Linked DNA regions of Homo sapiens: region 2 is linked to region 1. Evidence: fine-mapped expression QTL. A gene starts in region 1. The other region holds a variant in brackets. All regions are shown on one strand. Distances are from middle to middle. Region 1 holds the start of DBF4B (DBF4B-CDC7 kinase regulatory subunit). Region 2 overlaps DBF4B (DBF4B-CDC7 kinase regulatory subunit).

What was found.
Region 2: its variant is fine-mapped to the expression of DBF4B in whole blood (INTERVAL, PIP above 0.99).

Annotation. Positions count from the first base shown.
Region 1 is chr17:44,701,651-44,713,896 of GRCh38, forward strand. It overlaps DBF4B (DBF4B-CDC7 kinase regulatory subunit), which reads left to right and starts at 7,015. Exons shown (of 14, transcript NM_145663.3): 1 at 7,015-7,189; 2 at 7,654-7,716. The coding sequence starts at 7,171. RefSeq lists enhancers at 6,821-7,335, 7,336-7,849.
Region 2 is chr17:44,746,300-44,758,545 of GRCh38, forward strand. It overlaps DBF4B (DBF4B-CDC7 kinase regulatory subunit), which reads left to right. Exons shown (of 14, transcript NM_145663.3): 11 at 784-892; 12 at 1,092-1,216; 13 at 2,042-2,166; 14 at 4,296-5,965. The coding sequence ends at 4,954. Among named protein-coding and RNA genes, the nearest start is that of ADAM11, 6.6 kb to the right of the region's middle. RefSeq lists an enhancer at 6,761-7,261. The variant A/C (reference allele first, on the strand shown) is at 7,556.

The DNA of each region.
Region 1 (12,246 bases):
ATTCTCCTGCCTCAGCCTCCTGAGTAGTTGGGATGACAGGCGCCCACCACCATGCCCGGCTAATTTTTGCATTTTCAGTTGAGACAGGGTTTCGCCATGTTGGTCAGGCTGGTCTCGAACTGCTGACCTCAGGTGATCTGCCCACCTCAACCTCCCAAAGTGCTGGGATTACAGGCGTAAGCCACTGCACGCAGCTCTTTTTTTTTTTTTTTTTTTTTTTTTTTGAGACAGAGTCTCACTTTCTTATCCACGCTGAAGTGCAGTGGTATAATCATCCCTCATTGCAGCCTCCACCTCCTGGGCTCAACTGATCCTCCCACCTCAGGCTCCTGAGTAGCTAGGACCACAGGCATGCACCACCACACCCAGCTAATTTTTTTTTTTAATTTTTAGTAGAGATGAAGTGTCACTATGTTGCTCAGACTGGTCTCAAACTCCTGGGCTGAAGCGATTCACCTGCCTCAGCCTCCCAAAGTGCTGAGATTAAAGGTGTGAGTCCCCATGCCTGACCTTTGTAATCATCTTGTACCTGAGGCACACCTTTCTTTTTTGGCCGGGGCGGGGGGGTGGGGGGCGGAGAGTCTTGCTCTGTCACCCAGGCTGGAGTGCAGTGGGGCCATCTCAGCTCACTGCCACTTCTGCCTCCTTGGTTCAAACAATTCTGCTGCCTCAGTATCCCAAGTACCTGGGATTACAGGCACACACCACCATGCCTGGCTAATTTTTATATTTTTTAAGTAGAGATGGGGTTTCATCCTGTTGGCCAGGCTGGTCTTGAACTCCTGACCCCAAGTGATCCGCCCACCTTGGCCTCCCAAAGTGCTGAGATTACAGGCATGAGCCACCATGCCTGGCCAAGGCACACCTTTCTTTGGAGACCACCGGCCCAGGATAAACCTAGAAGAGTGTTAGACTGAAGGGCAGGTACCTTATTGGGTACTAAATTGCTCTCCCAAGGTTTGCCCCAGTTTTATACCCCACCCTTTTCTTTGCATTTTTACTAGAATTTGGTTTTAATACACATTAATTTTTGCAGATCAAAAGTTATGAAGTGGCATTTAATTATTGTTAAATTGGTATTTTCCTAATTATTAGTGAGTCGTAGCATGCTTTATGTTTATCAGCCCTTAAAATGTCTCATGTTTGTATTGCCCGTATTTTTCTTTTGTGTTATTTGTCTTTTCCACATTGATTTTTAAGAATCTACTTTTTCTTTTCCATTTCATTAATTTCTATCCTTTGCTATTTCTGACTGTCTACAGCCTTTGGGCTCACTGTTTTGTTCATTTTTCTGACTTCTCAAGTTGAACACTTAGCTAATTCATTTTCAATTATTCTTATTTTCTCTTTCTTACTTCCTTATTTTCTTTTTCTTTCTTTCTTTTTTTTTTTTTTTCTTTTTAAGCAACAGAGTCTTGCTGTGTTGCCCAGGCTGGTCTCGAACTCCTGGTCTCAAACAGTCTGCCTGCCTCGGCCTCCCAAAGTGCTGGGGTTACAGGCATAAGCTACCACTCCTGGCCTAAATTTAACTTTTAGATTTGGGGGTACATGTGCAAGTTTGTCACAAGGGTATATTGTGCAATGCTGCAATTTGGGCTTGTCGGTGGGGGGTGGGCAGGGTGGGCTGGGGCAGAGTCTCCCTCTGTTGCCCAGACTGGACTGCAGTGGGGCAATCACAGCTCACTGCAGCCTTGACCTCCTGGGCTCAAGCGACCCTCTCACCTCAGCCTCTCCAATAGCTGGGACCACAGGTGCATACCTAATGCTCAGCTAATTTTTTATTTTATTTATTGTAGAGAAAGGTTCTCCCTATGTTGCCCAGGCTGGTCTCAAACCCCTGGGCTCAAGTGATCCTCGGGCCTTGGTGTCCCAAGTGTTGGGATTACAGGCATCAGCCACCACACCTGGCCTGGGCTTCGAGTGATCCCATCACCCAGATAGTGAACATATTACCCACCTTCCTCTCTCCAGCCTTCCCTCCTTTTGGAGTCCCCAGTGTCTATTGTTCTCATCTTTATGTCCATGTGTATCCAGGGTTTAGATCCCACTTAAAAGTGAGAACATGCAATATTTGGTTTTCTGTTTCTGTGCTAATTTGCTTAGGAGAATGGCCTCCAGCTACACTCACATTGCTACAAAAGACATGATGTTTTTTTTTTTTTTGAGATTGAGTTTTGCTCTTGCTGCCCAGGCTGGAGTGCAATGGCAAGATCTCAGCTCACCGCAACCTCTGACTTCCAGGTTCAAGCTATTCTCCTGCCTCACCCTCCCGAGTAGATGGGATTACAGGCATGCGCCACCACACCCGGCTAATTTTGTATTTTTAGTAGAGATGGGGTTTCTCCATGTTGGTCAGGCTGGTCTCGAACTTCCAACCTCAAGTGATCCGCCCACTTCGGCCTCCCAAAGTACTGGGATTACAGGCGTGAGCCACTGCCCCCAGCAATTTCATTATTTTTTATGGCTGTATAGTATCCCATGGTGTATATGTACCACATTTACTTTATCCAATCCACCATTCACGGGGTACCTAGGTTGTTTCTATGTCTTTGCTACTGTGAATAGTGTGGTAATAAACATAGTGCAGGTGTCCTTTTGGTAGAATGGTTTATTTTCCTTTGGGTATATACCAAGTAATGGGATTGCTGGGTCACATGATAGTTCTATTTTTAGTTCTTTGAGAAATCACACTGCTTTCCACAGGGGCTGAACTAATTTACATTCTCACCAACAGTATATAAGCATTACCTTTTCTCCATAGACTGGCCAACATTTATTATCTTTTGGCTTTTTAATAGTAGCCATTCTGACTGGTATGAGATGGTATCTCATTGTGGTTTTAATTTACATTTCTCTGATGATCAATGATATTAAGCATTTTTTCATGTTTGTTGCCACTTGTATGTCTTTTTTTAAGATATGTCTGCTCATGTTTTTGCCTTTTTTTTTTTTTTTTTTTTTGAGACAAGGTCTTGGTCTGTCGTTCAGGCTGGAGTGCAGTGGCATGATCTTGGCTCACTGCAGACTTGACCTTCTGGCCCAGGTGATCCTCCTACCTCAGCCTCCCAAGTAGCTGGGGCTGCAGGCATATGCCACCAGGCCTAGCTAATTTAAAAAAATTTTTATATAGATGGGCCTCCCTATTTTGCCCAGGCTGACCTTGAACTCCTGAGCTCAAGTAAAGCCTCCTACCTTGGCCTCCCAAAGTGTTGAGATTACAGGCATGAGCCCCTGCATCTGGCCTTTGCCCACTTTTTAATTAGGTTTTTTTGTTGTCGTTGATTTATTTAAGTTCCTTATAGATTCTGGATATTAGTCCTTTGTCAGATGCATAGTTTGCAAATATGTTCTCCCATTCTGTAGGTTGTTTACTTCATTGATAGTTTCTTTTGCTGTGCTTTGGAAGCTCTTTAGTTTAATTAGGTGCCAGTTGTCAATTTTTTTTTTTTTTGTCGTAATTGCTTTTGAGGACTCAGGCTGATATCTAGACAGTATTTCCTAGGTTTTGTTCCAGAATTTTTAGTTTGATGTCTTACATTTAAGTCTTTCATCCACCTTGAGTTAATTTTTGTATATGGTAAGAGGTAGGGGTCCAGTTTCATTCTTCTGCATATGGTTAACCAGTTTTCCCAGCATCATTTATTGAACAGGGAGTCCTTTCCCCATTACTCATAGGTGTACAGCTTTATTTTTGGGTTCTTTATTCTGTTCCATTGGTCTATGTGTCTATTTTTATGCCACTACCATGCTGTTTTGGTTACTGTAGCCTTGTTTAGTTTGAAGTCAGGTAATGTAATGCCTCTGGCTTTGTTCTTTTAGCTTAGGATTGCTTTGGCGATTCAGGCTCTTTTTTTCATTCTATATGCATTTTAGAATAGTTTTTTTTTCTGATTCTGTGAAAAATTACATTGGTAATTTGATAGGAATAGCACTGAATCTGTAGATTGTTTTGGGCAGTATGGACATTCTAATGATATTGACTCTTCCAATCCATGATCATGGAATGTTTTTCTATTCGTTTGTGTCTTTTATTATTTCTTTCAGCAGCAGTGTTTTATAGTTCTTGTAGAGATCTTTCACCTCCTTGGTGAGATGTATTCCTAGGGATTGTTTTGTGTGTGTGGCTCTTTTTTTTTTAATGAGACAGAGTCTCGTTCTGTTGCCCAGGCTGGAGTGCAGTGGGGTGATCTCGTCTTACTGCAAGCTCTGCCTCCCGGGTTCATGCCATTCTCCTGCCTCAGCCTCCCAAGTAACTGGGACTACAGGCACCAGCCACCACACCTGGCTAATTTTTTGTATTTTTAGTAGAGACGGGGTTTCACCATGTTAGCCAGGATGGTCTCGATCTCCTGACCTCGTGATCTGCCCGCCTCGGCCTCCCAAAGTACTGGGATTACAGGTGTGAGCCACCATGCCCGGCTGGCGCTTTTTTTTTTTTTTTTTTTGACAGAGTCTCGTCACCCAGGCTGGAATGCAGTGGTGTGAGCTTGGCTCACTGCAATCTTCGCCTCCTGGGCTCAAGTGATCCTTGTGCCTCAGCCACCTGAATAGCTGGGATTACAGTTGCACACCATCACTCCAGGCTAATTTTTGTATTTTTAGTGGAGATGGGGTTTCACCATGTTGGCCAGGCTGGTCTCGAACTCCTGGCCTCAAGTGATCCACCCTCCTCAGCCTCCCAAAGTGCTGGGATTACAGGTGTGAGCCAACATGCCCAGCCTGTGTGTGTGGCTGTTGTACATGAGATCACATTCTTGATTTGGCTCTCAGCTTGAACGTTATTGGTGTATAGAAATGCTACTGATTTTTGTGTGTTGACTTTTTTTTAATCCTAAAATTTTATTAAAGTAATTTATTGGGTCTAGGAGCCTTTTGGTGGAGTCCTCATGGTTTTCTAGCTATAGAATCATATCATCAGTAAGCAGAGATAATTTGATTTTCTCTTTACCTATTTGGATGCCTTTTGTTTCTTTTTCTTGCTGATTGCTCTGGCTAGGATTCCCTAAATACATTTATATTTTAAAGTATTTTCATTTTTTGGAGTTGCATAGTGTTGCACAGTATGACTACACCATAATTTATTTAACCTACTGCCCGTTGTTAATCAATATTTTCGTTGCTTTTGATCTTTTGGTATTGCAAACAATGCTGAGGCAGATACCTTTATTATACAAATTCTGTCACACATGTGAAAAAAGAACATGCTGAACCATCTTGCCTCTTAAAGTTTCTGCTTGGAAGTGATGTCACTTTTTTCTTTTTTCATGAGCCAAAGCAAGTCATATGGCCAAGGCTTCGTTCGTTCATCAGGGCTGAGATGTATAAGCTTCCTCAGGGAGGAGTCCCACTGGAAGAGATACCAAGTTTATGTACTGTATATACCTCTACCAGTGTTTAAAAAATATCACCCTGGGCCAGGCGCGGTGGCTCACACCTGTAATCTCAGCACTTTGGGAGGCCGAGGCGGATGAATCACCTGAGGTCAGGAGTTCGAGACCAGCCTGGCCAACCTGGTGAAACCCCGACTCTACTAAAATACAAAAATTAGCCGGGCATGGTGGCAGGCACCTGTAATCCCAGCTACTCGGGAGGCTGAGGCAGGAGAATGGCCTGAACCCGGGAGGCAAAGGTTGCAGTGAGCCAAGATTGCGCCACTGCACTCCAGCCTGGGCGACAGAGCGAGACTCCCTCTCAATAAAAAAATAAATAAATATAAAAACTATCACTCTGGTTGCTGAATGGAGAATGGATTATACTGGGGAGAGATAGGAAGCTACTCGGGAGTAGAAGTGAAGAATTGACCGCAGTACTTTAGGCAAGAAATGATAGCAGCTTGAACTAGGGTGGTGGTGGTCTGATTCCAGATGTACTTTGGAGGCAGAGTTAGTAGGATTTTTTTCTTGGAGTGGGGATGGGCACAAGGGAAAGTACTGAAAGACAACTTCTAGGTTTTTGGTTTGAGCAACTGGGTGAATGATTGTGACATTTGAGTAAACAGTAACATTTTACTGAGAGGGGAAGACCTGGGGGGAGAACAGGTGGTTTTTTGACAGGGGCAGCGAAACAAATGTTCTGTTTTGAATGTGTTCAGCCTGAGGTGCCTATTAGACATCCAAATTGAAATAGCCAGTAGGCACTTGAATATGTGAGTCTGGAGATCAGACAGGTCAGAGCTACAGAAAATCTGAAGGTGTGGCAGAGCTGAATTGTAAAGCTGTGGAGCTGGATGAGATCTCCTAGGGAGATAAGGGAGAGGGATAAGGGCTAAAGCGTTGGCATACTCCAAAATATATAGGTGAACAGTGGCTTTGGATCCAGCAAAGGGGACTGAGGAGGAACCATTGAGATAGGGAAAAAAACGGTAGAGTGCTGAGTCATGGAAGCAAAAAGAAGAAAGTATTTCAAAGAAGGAATAGTCCATCTATAAGTTGGATATGATAAGGATAGTATTTCAGACTGTGGAAATCACAGTTGACCTGGATAAGTACAGTTTTTGTGGGGAGGTCCCCAGCTCTCCACTGAATGATCTCTTATTAGATCAAATTTGATCTCTAATTAGCAGTCTAATTAGATGGGTTGAAGAAAAGATGGGAAGTGAGGGATAAAGATACGTCTTTTGAGAAGTTTTGTTGGGCAGGTAATAATTGAAGAACGGGAGGGGGACAAAAATGTGAAGATGAAATGATGTGTAAGTGAAATCTTTATGTAAACTGCAAATGCTCTGCAAGTGTTAGGCTTATTTTGTTATTTAGTATTCAAACTTCTAGGAATTTCAATGCAGCTCAGTGTGAAGAATCACTAAAAAGCGACCACTAGTCCTCAACTTGAGGGCCATTAAGGGGCAAAGCCGTCTAGCCAGTGAAGAGCCAAGAAATGAAGAGACGGTTTGAGAAGACGTAGGCGGTGGGGGAACGGAAAGAGGAATCGCGAAACTAATATTGTCCTTCCAAGGACACCGTAGGGCGGATCTCGCAGCTACGGCGTTCTTTTAGGGGTGGAGCCGGCAGGAAATTTAAACTGAAGCCGCGGCCGAAAACGCCAAGAGATTGATGCTGTAGCTGCCCTGAGATAACCAGGACTGTGGAATCGGGAAGAGCTCATGGAGCTCGCGAATGTAATACGGAGGCCTCTGAGGAAGGAGTACGGAGGCCGAGAAGGAGCCGGCATTTGATGAGCGAACCGGGAAAGGGTACGGATGCCGGGAAGGGGAGAAAGAAAGGCGGAAGGGGTCGTTAATAGCTGAGGCGAGGTGCGGAGTCGTGGAGGGGGCTTAGGAAGTGACCAGCGGGTAGGTGCCGAAGCTGAGGAGGGTATAGGGGCCGGGAAGGAGCCACAGGAGTTGAGGGGACCGAGGAATGAAGGTGGCAGAGGAACGTAGGGGACAACAGCCTGGAGGGATGTATGGAGATTGAGATGGACAGGAGGTGGCCAAGAGGTCACGGCCGTTGACTGAACGGAGTCTGAAAGGAGGCGGAGGGCATGAGGGGCAAGAGCCTGGCGGGAGTCGCGGGATGTAGGTCGGAATGGAGTTGAGTCTTGCTGTTCCCAGGAGTCGCGTTTCTGTGCGCGTTTTGGGAGACAGTAGTGGGCGGGAGGCATGGAAGTTCCAAGGGTTGGTGAAGATGGTTGAGTTGCTGTTATGTCCTTTCTCAGGAGACGATTGCCTCGAGCTGGAGAGTTCCATGGCTGAGAGTAGGCTCCGGGCCCCGGACCTAGGTGGGTAACAGGACAGAACTAGGGACGTGAGGTGAAAATTGCCCCAGGGTCTCTTGGAGAAGACCGAAAAATGTTCCCCCTGTTGGAGTTTTCGATCACTCAGTGTTTTTATGTACTTATTTATTCATTTTATTTATTGGGATGGGGTCTTGCTGTGTTGGCCAAGCTGGTCTCAAACTCCTGGCCTCAAGCAGTTCTCCTGCCTAGGCCTCCCAAAATGCTGGGATTACAGGTGTGAGCCACTTCACCAGGCCCACTTAGTGGTTTTATGTGTGTGTGTGTATGGACGCAGCATCATAGACCGTTTTGGGATTCATGATAAAGGTCAAGTAAGAGTCATATTATGAACAAGATTAACAGACAGATGTGGAGTCAGGATAGAGTGACTTATTAAATATATAAATTAATACATTCATAGTTGTTTACAATAAAATCCTTAAGTTAAACACTGCTACCTAATTAGGTAAGTATTTTAGCACATGGCACTTCCCTCCGTACTGCCCCTTTAGTTAATATCATCTAGTTGGCCGGGCGCGGCTGCTCACGCCTGTAATCCCAGCACTTTGGGAGGCCAAGGCGGGCGGATCACGAGGTCAGGAGATTGAGACCATCCTGGCTAACACAGTGAAACCCCATCTCTACTAAAAATACAAAAAATTAGGCGGGCGTGGTGAGGCGTGCCTGTAGTCCCAGCTACTCAGGAGGCTGAGGCAGGAAAATTGATTGAACCCAGGAGGCGGAGGTTGCAGCGAGCCGAGATTGCGCCACTGCACTCCAACCTGGGCGACCGAGCGAGACTCCGTCTCAAAAAAAAGAAAAAAAAAATACCGTCTACTTTTACTTCTGGATTGTTAACAGATATGCCATCGGCTTGTTGCCTTTTAAACAGTAATCCACTTCATTTACTGAGTTATTCATTCTTCCCATCTCTTGTTGGTTTTTTTTCCCCCTTCTGTTTCTCTGGAGAACTTCAAGAGTGTTTTCAAAAGGAGGCTTTGTGTGATAAACTAAGAATATATTTATTTCAGCCTTGTAGTAAAATTTAAGTCAATTTTTTTTCCTTCAACACATTGAAAAATTACAGTATTTTCTCCTTGTTTTCTTCAGCATTTCTTTTTTATTCTTGCTGCTTTGTAAGTGACCTCCTTTTCTCATTAGATGTTTTAGATTATGTGAACCTATGGATTATATTGATGAAAGAAAAAAATGTTTTATTTTATTTATTTTGAGGTCTTGCACCCAGGCTGGAGTGCAGTGGAGCAATCATGGCTCACTGCAGGTTTGGCCTCACCGGGATCAAGTGATCCTCCCACCTCAGACTCCCAGGTAGCTGGGACTGCAGGCACTCAACACCACGCCCAGCTAATTTTTTTTTGTTGTTTGTTTTGTAGAGACGAGGTTTTGCCATGTTGCCCAGGCCGGTCTTCAACTCCTGGGCTCAAGCGATCACCCTCCTCAGCTTCCCAAAGTGTTGGGATTACAGGAGTGAGCCACTGCACCCAGCCCAATATTTTAGATTATACATTTTTATATTTGTTCTTAAAATTTACTATAAGATGATAATGTGTGGATTTTAGAGGGTTTTTATTTTCGTTTTTATTCCAGTTTGATTTTTTTTTTTTTTTTTTTTTTTTTTTGAGACAGAGTCTCGCTTTGTCGCCCAGGCTGGAGTGCAGTGGCACCATCTCGGCTCACTGCAACCTCTGCCTCCAGAATTCAAGCAATTCTTTTGCCTCAGTCTCCTGAGTAGCTGGGATTACAGGAGCACGCCACCATGCCCGGCTAATTTTTGTATTTTCACTAGAGACAGGGTTCCACCATGTTGGTCAGGCTAGTCTTGAACTCCCGACCTCATGATCCACCTGCTTCAGCCTCCCAAAATACTGGGATTATAGGCGTGAGCCACCACACCTGGCCTCCAGATTGATTCTTTAAATTTTTTTAAATTATTATTTTATTTTAGAGACAAGAACTTGCTCTGTTACCCAGGCTAGAGTACAGTGGCACAATCATAGCTCACTGCAGCCTCAAAGCCCTGGGTGCAAGCAATTCTCCTGCCTCAGTCTCCCAATCTCCTGCCTCAGTCTCCCAAGTAGCTATGTCTTCAGGTGCATGTCTCCACACCTGGCTTCCTGTTTGATTCTTGACATAGCTTAAAAGGCAGGCCATGTGTGGTGGCTCACACTTGTAATCCCAGCACTTTGGGAGGCCAAGGCAGGCGGATCACCTGAGATCAGGAGTTCAAGACCAGCCTGGGCAACGTGGTGAAACCCTGTCTCTACTAAAAATACAAAAAACAGAGCCGGGCGTGGTAGCTGACACCTGTAATCCCAGCACTTTGGGAGGCCGAGGCAGGGGGATCACGAGGTCAGGAGATTGAGACCATGGTGAAACCCCATCTCTACTAAAAATACAAAAAATTAGCCGGGCGTGGTGGCAGGCACCTGTAGTCCCAGCTACTCGGGAGGCTGAGGCAGGAGAATGGCGTGAACCCGGGAGGCGGAGCTTGCAGTGAGCAAAATTGCACCACTGCACTCCAGCCTGGGCGACAGAGCAAGACTCTGTCTCAAAAAAAAAAAAAATTAGCTGGCGTGGTGGCAGGCTCCTATAATCCCAGCTACTTGGGAGGCTGAAGCAGGAGAATTGCTTGAACCCAGGAGGTGGAGGTTGCAGTGAGCCGAGACTGTGCCATTGCACTCCAGCCTGGGCAACAAGAATGAAACTCCATCTCAAAAAAGAAAAAAAAAAAAAAGCCAAAGTTTCTCACAAAAAACAGGAGGCATGAGAGTTAATCCCCTTTCAGGCTGTCTGATTCCCACTTCCTAAGAAACAGCCATTTACAGCTTTTAACTATTTCTTCTAGAAGCTACCACCTTATTTCTGTAATAATATGCTCATACTGTTTTAATTGTTTTCCATTTTGAATTATGTCTTCTTTTTTTTTTTTTTTTTTTTTTTGAGACGGTCTCACTCTCATCAGGCTGGAGTGCAGTGGCACAATCATCTCGGCTCACTGCAACCTCTGCCTCCTGGGTTCAAGCGATTCTCCTGCCTCAGCCTCCCAAGTAGCTGGGACTACAGGCACGTGCCACCATGACTGGCTAATTTTTTGTCTTTTTAGTAGAGATGGGGTTTCACTGTGTTAGCTAGGATGGTCTTGATCTCCTGGTCTCGTGATCCACCCGTCTCAGACTCCCAAAGTGCTGGGATTACAGGCATGAGCCACCACGCCCAGCCAAATTTTTTGTATTTTTAGTAGAGATGGGGTTTTACCATGTTAGCCAGGATGGTCTCGATTGCCTGACCTCACGATCTGCCCTCCTCAGCCTCCCAAAGTGCTGGGATTACAGGTGTGAGCCACCACACCCGGCCTGTCTTCTTTTTTTTTTATAGAGATGGGGTCTCACTGTGTTGCCCAGGCTGGTCTTGAACTCTTGGGCTCAAGTGATCTGCCCACCTCGGCCTCCCAAAGTGATGGAATTACAGGCGTGAGCCACCATGCCCAGTCAATTTTGAATTATATCTATTGACTGTCTTCTATGGACAATAAAGATTTTTTCTGTCCTACCACTTCTCTGCACCACACACAAACGCACATGCATTTCCCACCTTTCCTTTTATCTCCCCAGTATATATGTAGTAATTTTGATTTAGTCATTTGTATTGACTTTTTTTTTTTTTTTTTTTTTTTGAGACAGAGTCTTGCTCTGTCGCCCAGGCTGGAGTGCAGTGGCGTGATCTGGGCTCACTACAAGCTCCGCCTCCCGGGTTCATGCCATTCTTCTGCCTCAGCCTCTGGAGTCGCTGGGACTACAGGCACCCACGACCAGGCCCGGCTAATTTTTTGGTTTTTTTTAGTAGAGATGGGGTTTCACTGTGTTAGCCTGTATGGTCTTCATCTCCTGACCTCGTGATCCACCTGCCTCCGCCTCCCAAAGTGCTGGGATTACAGGTGTGAGCCACCACGCCCCGCCGACATTATTTTCATTATGTAAACATTATTCGGCCGGGCGCGGTGGCTCATACCTGTAATCCCAGCACTTTGGGAGGCTGAGGCAGGTGGATTACCTGAGGTTAGGAGTTTGAGACCAGCCTGGCCAACATGGTGAAACCCTGTCTCTACTAAAAATACAAAAATCAGTAGGATGTCGTGCACGCTTGTAATCCCAGCTACTTGGGAGACTGAGGCAGGAGAATCACTTGAACCCGGGAGGCAGAGGTGTAGTGAGCCGAGATCATGCCGCTGCACTCCAGCTTGGGCGACAGAGAAAGATTCCGTCTCAAAAAAACAAACAAACAAAACATTATTCATCACTGAGCTATATAATAAGCTAGGAGATTTTCTTTGTTTTTTTATGTATGGATCACTAATTCAGGTCCAAACTCTTCACCAGAGTATGGGCCTTCTCTCAATACTTTCAAGCTCATCAGAGGATCTGTCAATTTGTCTTGGAGACATAGCGTTTTAGTACTCCAGTCTGGCCTGGCTGTGTACTAGGCCTATTGCACTGATTTCATCCTCCGATCTCC
Region 2 (12,246 bases), 45 kb after region 1:
GCTGTGAGAGATCCAAGGCAGCATGAGAGAAGGGACAGACTGAACCAAGCTGGGGAGACATTCAGGGTGGAAAAGAAGAGCAGTCCCTTCACTGTGGTTGAGACCTTTTCCCTTTCATCTTTCAGGTCTCATGAATGTGGGTGTAGGTTTGAGCACAGAGTTGGAATTCCTACAAGGGATTCTTGCTGCTGCCGTCACCATCCCATCTTCACCTGTCGTTTAAGAGAAGGACGGAGATGGCTGGCGCGGTGGCTCACACCTGTAATCCCAGCACTTTGGGAGGCCAAGGCAGGTGGATCACCTGAGGTCAGGAGTTTGAGACCAACCTGGCCAACATGGTGAAACCCCGTCTCTACTGAAAATACAAAAATGAGTTGAGCATTGTGGCGGGCGCCTGTAATCCCAGCTACTCTGGAGGCTAAGGCAGGAGAATGGCTTGAGCCCAGGAGGTGAAGATTGCAGTGAGCCAAGATCGCACCACTGCACTCCAGCCTGGGTGACTAAGCTAGACTCTCTCAAAAAAAAAAAAAAAAGAGAGAGAGGACAGAGATAAGACAGGCTGCCCACAGGGAGGTCTCCAGACGTCTTCTTCCTTGTTCCCCTCTTGCCATTCTTAGATGATTGGTACCAAGCTCAGGGAAGGCCTGCCTGCCGGTGCCTGCACAGCCCCTTGGCCATCTTGGTCCTTCCCCTCCCTGACCTAGGCTCCAGGCTCTAAGTAGTGGCTCCTCCCCCCAAGGGCCCCAGCAGTAACCACTTTGCCGCACTATGTACCCTCCCCAGAGAATCCAAGGATGGAGAGCCAAGCCCACGATCAGCTGCCCACACCATGCCCAGGAGGAAGAAAGGCTACTGCGAGTGCTGTCAGGAGGCCTTCGAGGAGCTCCATGTGGTGAGCCCCTTCCCCATTAAGCAGCTGCTCCCAGAGTGCCCTGAGGGAGCCTGCTCACTGGGGATGAGTCCTTCCTATGCGATCTCTATGCTGCTATGGCTGTCCTCCAGGGCCAGAGCATGGGCTGGGAGGTCAGCTTCCGTGTCCCCCTCCCCCCAGGCCTCATCTAATGCCCTGTGCTCCTCTCCCCCGCCGGCAGCATCTTCAGAGTGCCCAGCACCGGAGCTTTGCCCTGGAAGCCCATCTATATGCAGAAGTGGACAGGATCATTGCTCAGCTCAGCCACAGCTTTGCAGACATCCCTTTCCAGGCTGGCCTCCCCAGGTGAGTGCCACGCTGGCAGGCACAACTGTGTCTGCTCTCTCCTCTGTTGCCCTCTGGGTGGGAAGAGACCCTCAGGTTGGTGGCTGCTGGGACCAGACTGTGATGTTTTCCTCTTTTCTCACCTTCCTTTCCCCTTATCCTCAGTCCTGTTTGTTTTGGGGCTGGCCAAAAAAAATAAAAAGACCTCCATTTGTGGCTTCACTTGATGAAGACTAGACCCAGACTACACTGTGGCTCCCTTCCAACTCCACAGGCTTTGATGTGGTTGATAAGCAGTTCTGGCCAGGGAGCAGGGGGTTAGTGCTTGGGCCTCTCCTAGATAGGTGAAAAGCAAAGTCTTTCCCCTCTGTAGAAGTCACCCCCAGAAAGAAGGACTGCATGGGGTTTGGTGGGAATTCCAGGGCCCTCTGAGCCCTGCTTCCCCTTGCTGCCAGCAAGGCAGACCCTCTCCCACCTGGGGCTGTGGCTTCACCTCTCACCCCAAATCTCCACCTCAAGCTCAACTTGCACAGCCAGGCACTGCGCTGCTTTCTTCAGCTGCCAAAGGGCACAGCCTCCTCTGTGAAGTCATGAAATGGAATAGCCTCTAACCTATTCCTCTGGCCGGCCCCAACCACAGGCTGCAGAGCCAAGAGAAGTGCACACAGTGCTGGTTGCTGCGGCAGGTTAGACCCAAACAGGAGGACTTTCACACAGGGCCTCAGAGAAGGCAGCTCTCTCGGCACATGAACCGCCAGCTGTGGCAGCTCTCCCTGTGCCCTCAGCCCTGGCCCAGGCCTGCTGTGAAGTTGAAACCTGCAGCTCACAGTGTTTCTGTCCCAACAGGTGGTCAGGTTCCCCAGCTTCTGATTGTGACCCTCTCTGTCCTGAGACTCTGCACCCCCATCAGCCCTCCCATCCCAGGGCAGCATCTCCCAGGATAAGGAAAGAAGACAGCTGCCAGGCATCAGGTATCCCAGAGCAGGATGGGACAGTGGACAGCACGCAGGCACCAGCTGAACGTGCAGGGACTGGTGAGGTACCTGGACCTATAGCAAGCTGCCAGGACCTGGGGGTGTCAGTTGATGTGTTTGTGGACCCCCCAGGGATACCAGTGTCCAGGAGCCCTGCTTGCCAATGCCTCCTGCCTAGCTCTGGTTTTATGGAACTCTCCTCTGGCCCAGACCTGGCACTTTTTGGCCACAAGCGGAAGGTTCAGTTCCCCAGTGGCAGTGCTAAGAAGAGAGTGGGGGCCTCCTGGCCACAGGCTTCATTTTTTGTCCCAATAGCCCCCAACCCCTGCGGCACCAGGACAACTAGTGGCAAGCGTCTTCCCTCTCTTCCCCTTACAGGCCATGAGTCCAGGCTCCTCGCCTCCCTCCAGCCCTTGTGCCACTCACAGACCTGCCTCTCTCTCCCAGACCCCTTCCCCTGGCAGCCCACAGACAGACCAGCAGAGTTCTGGGCCACACAGCCCTCCTGGCTGGGGAAAGGGTGGCCCCCAGGGCCTGAGGATTCTGAGTGTACAGCCACTGGCCCTGTATCCCAGGAGGCTGGCCAGCTCCTCAGCTGCCCCACAGCTCCAGGCTGGCCATCAGCTCCCCTGTACTCAGCTACCAGTGTGCAGCCCTCGGGAGCACCTGTAGAGAGCAGGTCTACCTCCCTCCTGCAGCCCCTGCCAGCCAGTGCGGGAGCCAGCTGTTCCCGATGCCTCTGGGCCCCCCAGCCTCTCCAGGTGCCCTGTCTCCCTGTCTCCCAGCCCTGGTCCCAACCCCAGCCCCAGCCCCAGCCCCATGCTGGCAGAGAGCTGCTCCTACGAGTCCCCAAGGTGCTTGGCTCTTCACAGGGCCAGGCAGCTCCAGATTGAAGGGCCACAGATACAACTTACTCCTCTGCTGGGTGCTGCACACCCGGCCAGGGCTGACCAGGACGCAGGAGGGGCAGAACCCCAGGACTTCCCCAAAAGAGCTAGAAGGAGGCCCGGGCCTGGCCTTTGAAGTCCAGCAAGCAGCTGTCACGCTCAGCTCCATGGAGCTGACAGAGCCACCCCTCCCACTGGCCAGGTCTTTGGGAGAGAATCTGGGCTGGGGGCTGCCCTCTCCTACCCCTGCCTCCTGCCATGTTCCTGACCAGGCAGAGTCTACAGTGGGCTTGCCCAGCTGAGGCTGGCCGCCCACGCCAGGAGGCAGAGGCGAAGTTGGCATGGGGAGGGACCACAAAGGAGCTGGGGCAGCAGGAGTCCTGGCCCGGCTTCCTGGCCCTCCACAGGCCCTTGCCTCTCTGCAGAGCCGCGGGTTAGCTGTTGGTGTGCTCCACCCCCAACCCCGGCCTCCTTTCTCACGAGCATGTGGCCGCTCCTGCTTTCCAAAATGACTGTGTTTGTCCCCTCCCCCAGCCCCCCACGCTCCCGCACACAGATCCTCAGGAACATATGAAGCAGAGGAGGGGCTTGGGCTGCACCACTCACAGAGCTCCCTCCCCCAGGCACTTAGTTGGGGCCCAGCACTGACCTTTCCCCTGAGCCCAGGATGTGGCCAGAGCCCCCTCTGGGACCCCTCTCGCCCCTTCTCTGCCTCCTCAGCTTGAGCTGCCTGCCCGAAGTTCGGCTGTTCCGGGGCCAGTGTGTCACCTGCCAACTTCCACATCACCCTCCTCCCTCGCTCCCTCCTCTCCTTCCCCAAGGACCTCCCCCCATTTCTGGCAGCCAAGCCATTAATCTGGAGACAGAAATGGGTTTGCTATCGATTCTCTGGCCACTTTTTCTTTCATTACAATTTGTACCGTGATTCTTCTCACCCTTCTCTGCGTCCGTGCATTTAAAGAGTTGTCTCTTTAAATGTTGAAGCTTCCGGAAGCCTGATGCTATTCTGTGTCTCCTTTCAAAGGAAGAAGGGGGGGCCCAGCTATGGGTGAGGACTCAAGTTATTAGTTTGGAAATAGAGCAACTATGTGTACAGCCCACCTTAGAGGTCATGTTACCCCCTTCCTGTTAAATTTTACAATTAATTTTGGTTCAGGAAATGTAAATAAATTTGTTAATTACAAATAGCAAAGAGATGGGGCTGGAATGCCATATGTCGGTCCTTGATCTGCCCTCCAGTGACCCAAGGCAGGGCTGCGGGCCAGCAGCGATGGACAGAATCACTAGATGGTGTGATGGGACCTCCTGCAAGTCACACATGTGTGAGTGCCACAACCCTCCTGCCGGCCTTGCCCAAGGGCTCCAGGGAGCAGGGCTGCCTCTGTCCCTGCCCAGCCTCCTTTACCCAGTCTCATCTGGTCACTTCCTTGGCTCTGCTGCCTGGGGAGTGGTCGCCTGCAGAGGACATGCCCCTCCATCCCTCCCAAGAAAACTCCTTTGCCCCGGCGGACATTCCTGTTAAGGGCCCACTCCTCTTCCCTGAAGCCAGACCGTGGCTTATGTCTGCACGCTGCTGGGTTCGTCCCTTTCCTTTTGTGACATGGGGTTGCCTCATTCCCCATGACACCACCCCTCTGCATGAGGAAGTTTCCCCTTGCCCCTGTCTCAGACTTGGATACCTTTACCTGCTGCTCACACAAAGCCTGTGGTGCCGGGTTCGGGTGCCCTCATTGTCAACTGCAGGACCCATTCCCCGAACCTCACATCCGTGTACCCTTGCCTTCCCCTCCTATCTCAATGATCATGACCTTGGACATCTCTGCCAGGCCAAACCCCAAGGCTGGAACACTCCTCAGCCATTTCTCCATTGCGGCTTCCTGGCTGTAGACTCAGGTTAGAGGTGAACCCAGAACACCTGAGACTTGACCCAGGATGGATGGGTGCTGCTTGATGTGAATGAGGTCCCGCAGTGGCTCCTTGGCGTGAGCACTGCTCAGACTCCTTTCCACTCCAGCCCCCTTTCCACATCGCACCAGATGACTTTTACCCAGACCCAGTGGGCATTGCCTTATCTTGCAGTCAGTCCCTTTTCAACATGTTGCCGTTTCTTTCTGAAGAGGTGTCCTCCCTCCACAAGTCACACTGTCTGTCCCTGGCCCTCCAGCCCACCTCGCCAACCACTCTTGTTGGTTTCCTTCTCAGACTTGCCACCTTTCCCCTCTGCCCCAAAATGCCATGCTCCTCTCCTGGAAAACACTTGAGTTGATTCAGTAAATCGACTTCAAATACTTGAAGGCTCCCACCTTCTGTTCTCTGGCTCCTTCCTGCGGTCTATACCTACCGCCTCCTCTTCACCTCCTTCCCTTCCACACTTCCTTCCTGGGTAGCTCTGCCTGAAGCATTCCACTAAGATCATCTATTCCAAGGTCATGGACAGGCTACTGGTGACCAAAGTTGGTTCCTTTTCTCCTTTCTTTCCTCCTTGAAGCCTGGCTCCCTTGGTCGCAGCAGCCCCTCAGTGGCCTGGTTCTCCTGTCCCCCTGCCCTTCCTCACCATTGCCCATTCCCTCGTTCGTTCATTCAGCACAGGCCTTGCCGTCTGCCCTGAGTCAGCTCCGAGACACCTGAAGAGCCCTCCAGCCCTAACTACTTTACTCAGACTAGGTCCCCAGGCCTTTGTTCTTGCCTCTTCTCGCTGAGCCTTTCACTTCTCGGCAGATGTGACCGATTGGTAGCTCCACCCCAACTCCCTTCTGCTGGGTGGAATGCAGGAGCTAGCTGCCTCCAACTCACTGTGACCTCAGAAAAATGCCTTTATTACTCGGGCCTCAGTTTCCTCGTCTTTAAGTAAGGGGCTTGGATGAGATGATTTCAGGACCCTTTCCAATAATAAAATACTGTGACTGCCAGCAAATCTTTTATGTCTTTCCCTATCCTGCCACCAGCAGGAGTGCTGTATACCCGAGCACTCCTTCTCATCCTGGATCTTGGCTCCCCTTCCCAGGGGAGTTTCAGCTGTGCCCAGCTCAAACTGTTTTCTTGATCTAAAAAATGGAGGTAATCTAGGCTGGGCACGGTGGCTCACGCCTGTAATCCCTGCACTTTGGGAGGCTGAGGCGGGCGGATCATTTGAGGTCAGGAGTTCGAGACCAGCCTGGCCAACATAGTGAAACCCCATCTCTACTAAAAATACAAAAGTTAGCCGGGCATGCTGGCATGCCTGTAATCCCAGCTACTCGGGAGGCTGAGGCAGGAGAATCACTTGAACCTGGGAGGCAGAGGTTGCAGTGAGCCGAGATTGTGCCACTGCACTCCAGCCTGGGCAACAGGGCGAGACTGTCTCGAAAATAAATAAATAAATAAATAAATACGAAAAATGGAGATAATCATAGTTGCTACCTCGCTAGGAAATCACAAGAGTGAAATCAGATGTGTTTGTGAGGTATGTGGCACAGAGCTTGGCACATTGTCTCAACAAATAACATATTACCCACAGGCACACATGCCTGTGAGGCCTCCCTCCTAAACTTACATAAAGCTTATTCTCACTAATTCCCACCTGGCAGTGTCCCTTGGTAACTGGCGTCCTCATCTCGGGTGAGCATTTGTGGATGAAGCTGCTGAGGGGCACTGTGAGACCCCCTGTCCCAGGCCCCCTCCCAAGGGCCCTCTCCTGAGCTCCAGGAGGATCCCTTTTGTGGAAAAGAAGTGGCACTTGGGCCCTTATGGGTGTGACTGTATTTGTGCCCCACAGACCTCCCAAAGGATGAGTGTGCCTGGGATCCTGGTGCCCCAGGTGCCCCCAACTCCTCCCTTGGTGAAGCCTGAGAGCTTCAGAGATTAAAAGAGGGGCCACTTGGACGCCTGAGAGGGAGGAGCATGAGGTTTCCCGGGAGAGCTATGCAGATGAGAAGAACGGTCCTTGGACCCTGGGCTGGCATCTAAGAGGAAGCAGGATGAACTTCCTGTCCAAATGCTAGGCACTTCCCCTGCTGCCACCCCTCCACATCACGACATCAGGCACAGGTTCTCTCTGTGCTGGGTAGAGAGAGGACCCCGAGGACCCCAAGCCATAGAGAGGCCTGGGGTCCTGGGCAAGGGCCAGGGAGCCGGTTTGCTCCTCGGCGCCTTGGACGGTGCGAGCCCAGGGTGACTGAGCCCCTTTCATGTGCCAGACGCTGCTCCAAGCATGGGCAGCTCAGCCATCATCCCCGAGAGGAGCACTGTGAGGGGGGTGGTTTTCTAACCCCTGTGTCGTGGATGAGGAAACCAAGGCCCAGAGAGGCCAGCGGGCTTGCTCAAGGTCACACAGCCAGTTTGTGGGGGAGGCAGGATTGGGACCCCAGCCTGGAGACCTGAATCCTGCCCCCTTGACTAGCATGGTCTGTGCTGCAGGACTTAAGGCTGGTCACCAGGCCTGGACGGCCTCCACTGGCAGGAATCACTGCCGGTGGTATCACCCCAGGGCTGGGGGCAACCAGGACCTCTCCCTTACCTGG[A/C]GTTGCGGAGACAAGGTCTTGGCCCTGCATCCCCAACTTGGCCCTTATGCAGGAAAATTTGAGAGAACCGGCTAAAGAGCTAGAAGAGCAGCAGAAGGAAGGAGGCTCCGGCCTCCTAGGGAAGGGGCTTCCTAAGGGAGGCCAGAGACCCACCCCTCAGGGCCCCACAGCTCCCTCAGCAAGAGCAACCCCAAGAGTGGCATCAGGGCAGCAGAAATAGTGGCCCCAGCCTCAATGGATGGACCGAAGGAGCCAGCCATAGCTATGAAGTTGAGGTGGGGCCCCCCAGGGAACCCTATGTTTGAGGGGGAGACACAGGCCTGCCCCGATCTAAGCAGAAAACAGCCCTTGCTATCAGGGTCAGGTCTGATGAGGAGGACAAGCCCTGCTCTTCTGAAGTCCCAGTCTGATGAAGGGCCACCAATGAGAAAACAGACAGCCCTGACCTCAGGAGGGACGGTGGGTGAAAGAACGTGAAGCAAGCTTTCTGTGTGGGGATCCCACAGCTCCTAAGAGAGCTGAGGCAAGCATGAGACAGGGGAGGTGGAACCTCAGGGACTGGGGACTGTGATCAAGGGAGAGGCAAGAGGTCTAGCCGAGGCCGGGTGCCAGGGTTCACAGATGTAATCTAATCCCAGCACTTTGGGAGGCTGAGGCTGGAGGATCACTTGAGTTCAAGAGTTCGAGACTGGCCTGGGCAACATAAAAAGACCCCCGTCTCTACAAAAAGAAATTTTGTTAGCCAAGCATCGGCCTCATGCCTGGTAATCCCAGCACTTTGGGAGGCTGCTCTGCCTCCCAGGTTCACCCCATTCTCCTGCCTCAGCCTCCCGAGTAGCTGGGACTACAGGCGCCCACCACCACGCCTGGCTAATTTTTTGTATTTTTAGTTGAGACAGGGTTTCACCGTGTTAGCCAGGATGGTCTCGATCTCCTGACCTCGTGATCCACCCGCCTCAGCATCCCAAAGTGCTGGGATTACAAGCTTGAGCCACCACGCCTGGCCTTGAATGGCTCTTGAGTCCAGGTGTTGAGAACAGCCAGGACAACATGATGAAACCCAATCTCTACAAAAAATACAAAAGTGCTGGGCACGGTGGCTCACACCTGTAATCCCAGCACTTTGGGAGGCCAAGGTGGGCAGATCACTTGAGGTCAGGAGTTCAAGACCAGCCTGGCCAACATGGTGAAACCCCATCTCTACTAAAAATACAAAAATTAGCCAGACATGGTGGAGCACACCTGTAATCCCAGCTACTTGAGAGGCTGAGGCAGGAGAATTGCTGGAACCCGGTGGGAGGAGGAGGTTGCAGTGAGCCGAGGTCATACCATTGCACTCCAGCCTGGGCAACAGAACAAGACTCCGTCTGAAAAAAAAAAAAAAAAAAAAAGCCAAGCTTGGTGACGCCACCTGTAGTCCCTGCTACTCAGGAGGCTGAGGCAGGAGATGACTTGAGCCCAAGAGGTCAAGGTTACAGGAAGCTATGATTGTGCCACTGTTCTCCAGCCTGGGCAACAGAGCGAGACCCTCAAAAAATTAAAAAATAAGGTCTATTGCCTGCAATCCCAGCACTTTGGGAGGCTGAAGCAGGCAGATTGCTTGAGGCCAGGAGTTTGAGAACAGCCTGACCAACATGGCGAAACCCCATCTCTACTAATAATACAAAAATTAGCCAGGCGTGGTGGTGCACACCTGTAATCCCAGCTACTTGGGAGGCTGAGGCAGGAGAGTCACTTGAACCCAGGAGAAGGAGATTGCAGTGAGCCGAGATCATGCCACTGCACTCCAGCCTAAGCAACAGAGTGAGACTCCCATCTCAAAAAAAAAAAAAAAAAAAAAAAAAAAGATCGGCTGGGTGCGGTGGGCTCACGCCTGTAATCCCAGCACTTTAGGAGGCCGAGGTGGGTGGATCACCTGAAGTCAGGAGTTCGAGACCAGCCTGACCAACATGGAGAAACCACATCTCTACTAAAAATACAAAATTAGCTGGGCATGGTGGCACATGTCTGTAATCCCAGCTACTCGGGAGGCTGAGGCAGGAGAATTGCTTGAACCTGGGAGGTGGAGGTTGCGGTGAGCCGAGATCATGCCATTGCAACAAGAGCGAAACTCCAGCTGGGGGTGGTGGCTCACCCTGTAATCCCACCAGCACCCTGGGAGGCCGAGGCGGGTGGATCACGAGGTCAGGAGATCGAGACTATCCTGGCTAACACAGTGAAACCCCGTCTCTACTAAAAACACAAAAAAATTAGCTGGGCATGGTGTTGGGCACCTGTAGTCCCAGCTACTCGGGAGACTGAGGCAGGAGAATGGCATGAACCCGGGAGGCGGAGCTTGCAGTGAGCCGAGATGGCGCCACTGCACTCCAGCCTGGGTGACACAGCGAGACTCCATCTCAAAAAAAAAAAAAGAGCGAAACTCAATCTCAAAAAAAAAAAAAAAGAAAGTTCTAGGCCAGGCATGGTGGCTCACACCTGTAATCCTAGCACTTTGGGAGGCAGGCAGATTGCCTGAATTTAGGAGGTTGAGGACAGCCTGGACAACATGGTGAATTTAGGAGGGTGAGAACAGCCCGGGCAACATGGTGAGATCCCATCTCTACTAAAAATACAAAAAATTAGCCAGGTATGGTGACACATGCCTGTTGTCCTAGCTGCTCGGGAGGCTGAGGCAAGAGAATCACTTGACCCCAGAGGTGGAGGTTGAAGTGAGCCGCGATCTTGCCACTTTACTCCAGCCTGGGTGACAGAGCGAGACTCTCCAAAAGAAAAAAAAAAAATAGTAAGTTCTAGCCGGGTGCGGTGGCTCACGCCTGTAATCTCAGCACTTTGGGAGGCCGAGGCGGGTGGATCACGAGGCCAGGAGATCGAGACCATGCTGGCTAACATGTGAAACCCCGTCGCTACTAAAAATACAAAAAAAAAAAAAAAATAGCTGGGCGTGGTGGCGAGCACCTGTAGTCCCAACTATTCAGGAGGCTGAGGCAGGAGAATGGCGTGAACCCGGGAGGCGGAGCTTGCAGTGAGCCGAGATCGTGCCACTGCACTCCAGCCTGGGCGACAGAGCCAGACTCTGTCTCAAAAAAAAAAAAAAAAAAAAAGTAAGTTCTAGCCAGATCTGCTGGGAGCCGGGGAACCCAGGAATATAAGTGGCTATGGGGGCCAGGGAGCCATATGACCGAGTCTCCACTGGAACTAGCCCAGGGTGCCACCAGGGAGAGTCACTCTTAGGGCTCATCAGGTCTCCCCAACAGGAAGTCTAGGGTCCCAGGGCCACCGATGTGGTAGGAACATGCCTCTGGTGAAGAGGCCTGGACCACAGATTGGGCTTGCTCTGTGGTCTTGAACATGTTGGAGGACCCAGACTCTCCCAGCCCCGGGCTCGCACTGTGAAATGACAAACCTCACCCAGCCTACTGGGGGGCACTCCTGATCGGGACTTGCTGATGTGGCCCTGGGACATGGGCAGGCTGGAGCAGGACAGCCACCTTCGTGTCTGGGGTGTGTGGTGAGGGTGCATGGGACCAGATATACCAGTCCCCTCTGGTCCCAAATGGAGGGCAGAGATGGAAGTAGGACTAGGGGTGGCTAAGAGGAGTGGGGCCATGGAGTATGGGATGTGCCTTTCACCAGCTGTGTGACTTTGAGAAGCTCACATAACCTCTCAGAGCCTCAGTTTCCCCATCTGTAAAATGGGGAGCACAATCTCTCCCTCTGGGCTCATGATGAGTTTCCAGGAATACCACCTAGTAGGCCCTCATTCCCAGGAGCCTCCTCATGCCTACATCTTGGAGGAGGTTCTCAAGATGTCTCCAGAGCGAAGGAAGAATTGGCTCAGCCTTACTGAGCATCTGGGCCTGGCATGGCAGGTGGTTGGGGGTGGGGGGAGTCACTTGGTTCCCTACATTGATGTCAGCGCCTCCTGGGAAATCGCCTTCTCACCTCTCCTGGGCCTAAAATAGAGCGGGGGGTGGGGGTGTCACAAGCTAGAGGCAGTTCCCTCATCCCCAGCAGAGGCCCTGGGTCCTTGCGGAAGCAGAGGACCCAGGAAGGGGTTTCCTGCCTCCAATCTTGTTCTTCAGCAACCTGTGGTCCCCTAGCATGGGTACCAAAAAGGTCAGGGTGGGGACTCAGCGGCCCACCCACCATGCCCTACCACACCCCACACCATCTCAGGTATCTGGCCTTCAGCACCCCTAGCAGAAGTCTGAGGTCCCAGCCCTGGTATTGGGACCCAACATCCCCAGGAGCTGGGTGGAGGGCACAGCTGGGAATGTAGGTTGGGAGGTCAAGTATTTTGCAGACAGGGCAGCCTAGTCTGACCAGAGAGGGAATGCTGGGGGGCTCCAGAGGTGTCTTCTGCTCCTAAGGATTGGGACTAGCAAGGGAGGGGGAGCCATGGGGCATGCTAGCAGCATATAAGTGACCTGGCTAGTTTATATTTTATCTAGGAGGAAGGACAGGACGCCTGTGAGAGACTCAGGAACCCAGACGGACATGCCAGCCCTTCCTGATGGTTGGAGTGACAGCGATCCCTGAAGCCCTCCTGGAGGCCGGGGCATCTTTGGCGGGGAGAAGGAGCCGATGGGAAGGGGTCTGTACCGCGGGCGTGAGAGGACTCCGCAGTGACACGACCCGTAGCGAAGGTGCAAGAAATCCCAGAGGCGTAGAGCCCGGCGTTCGCCAAGAGC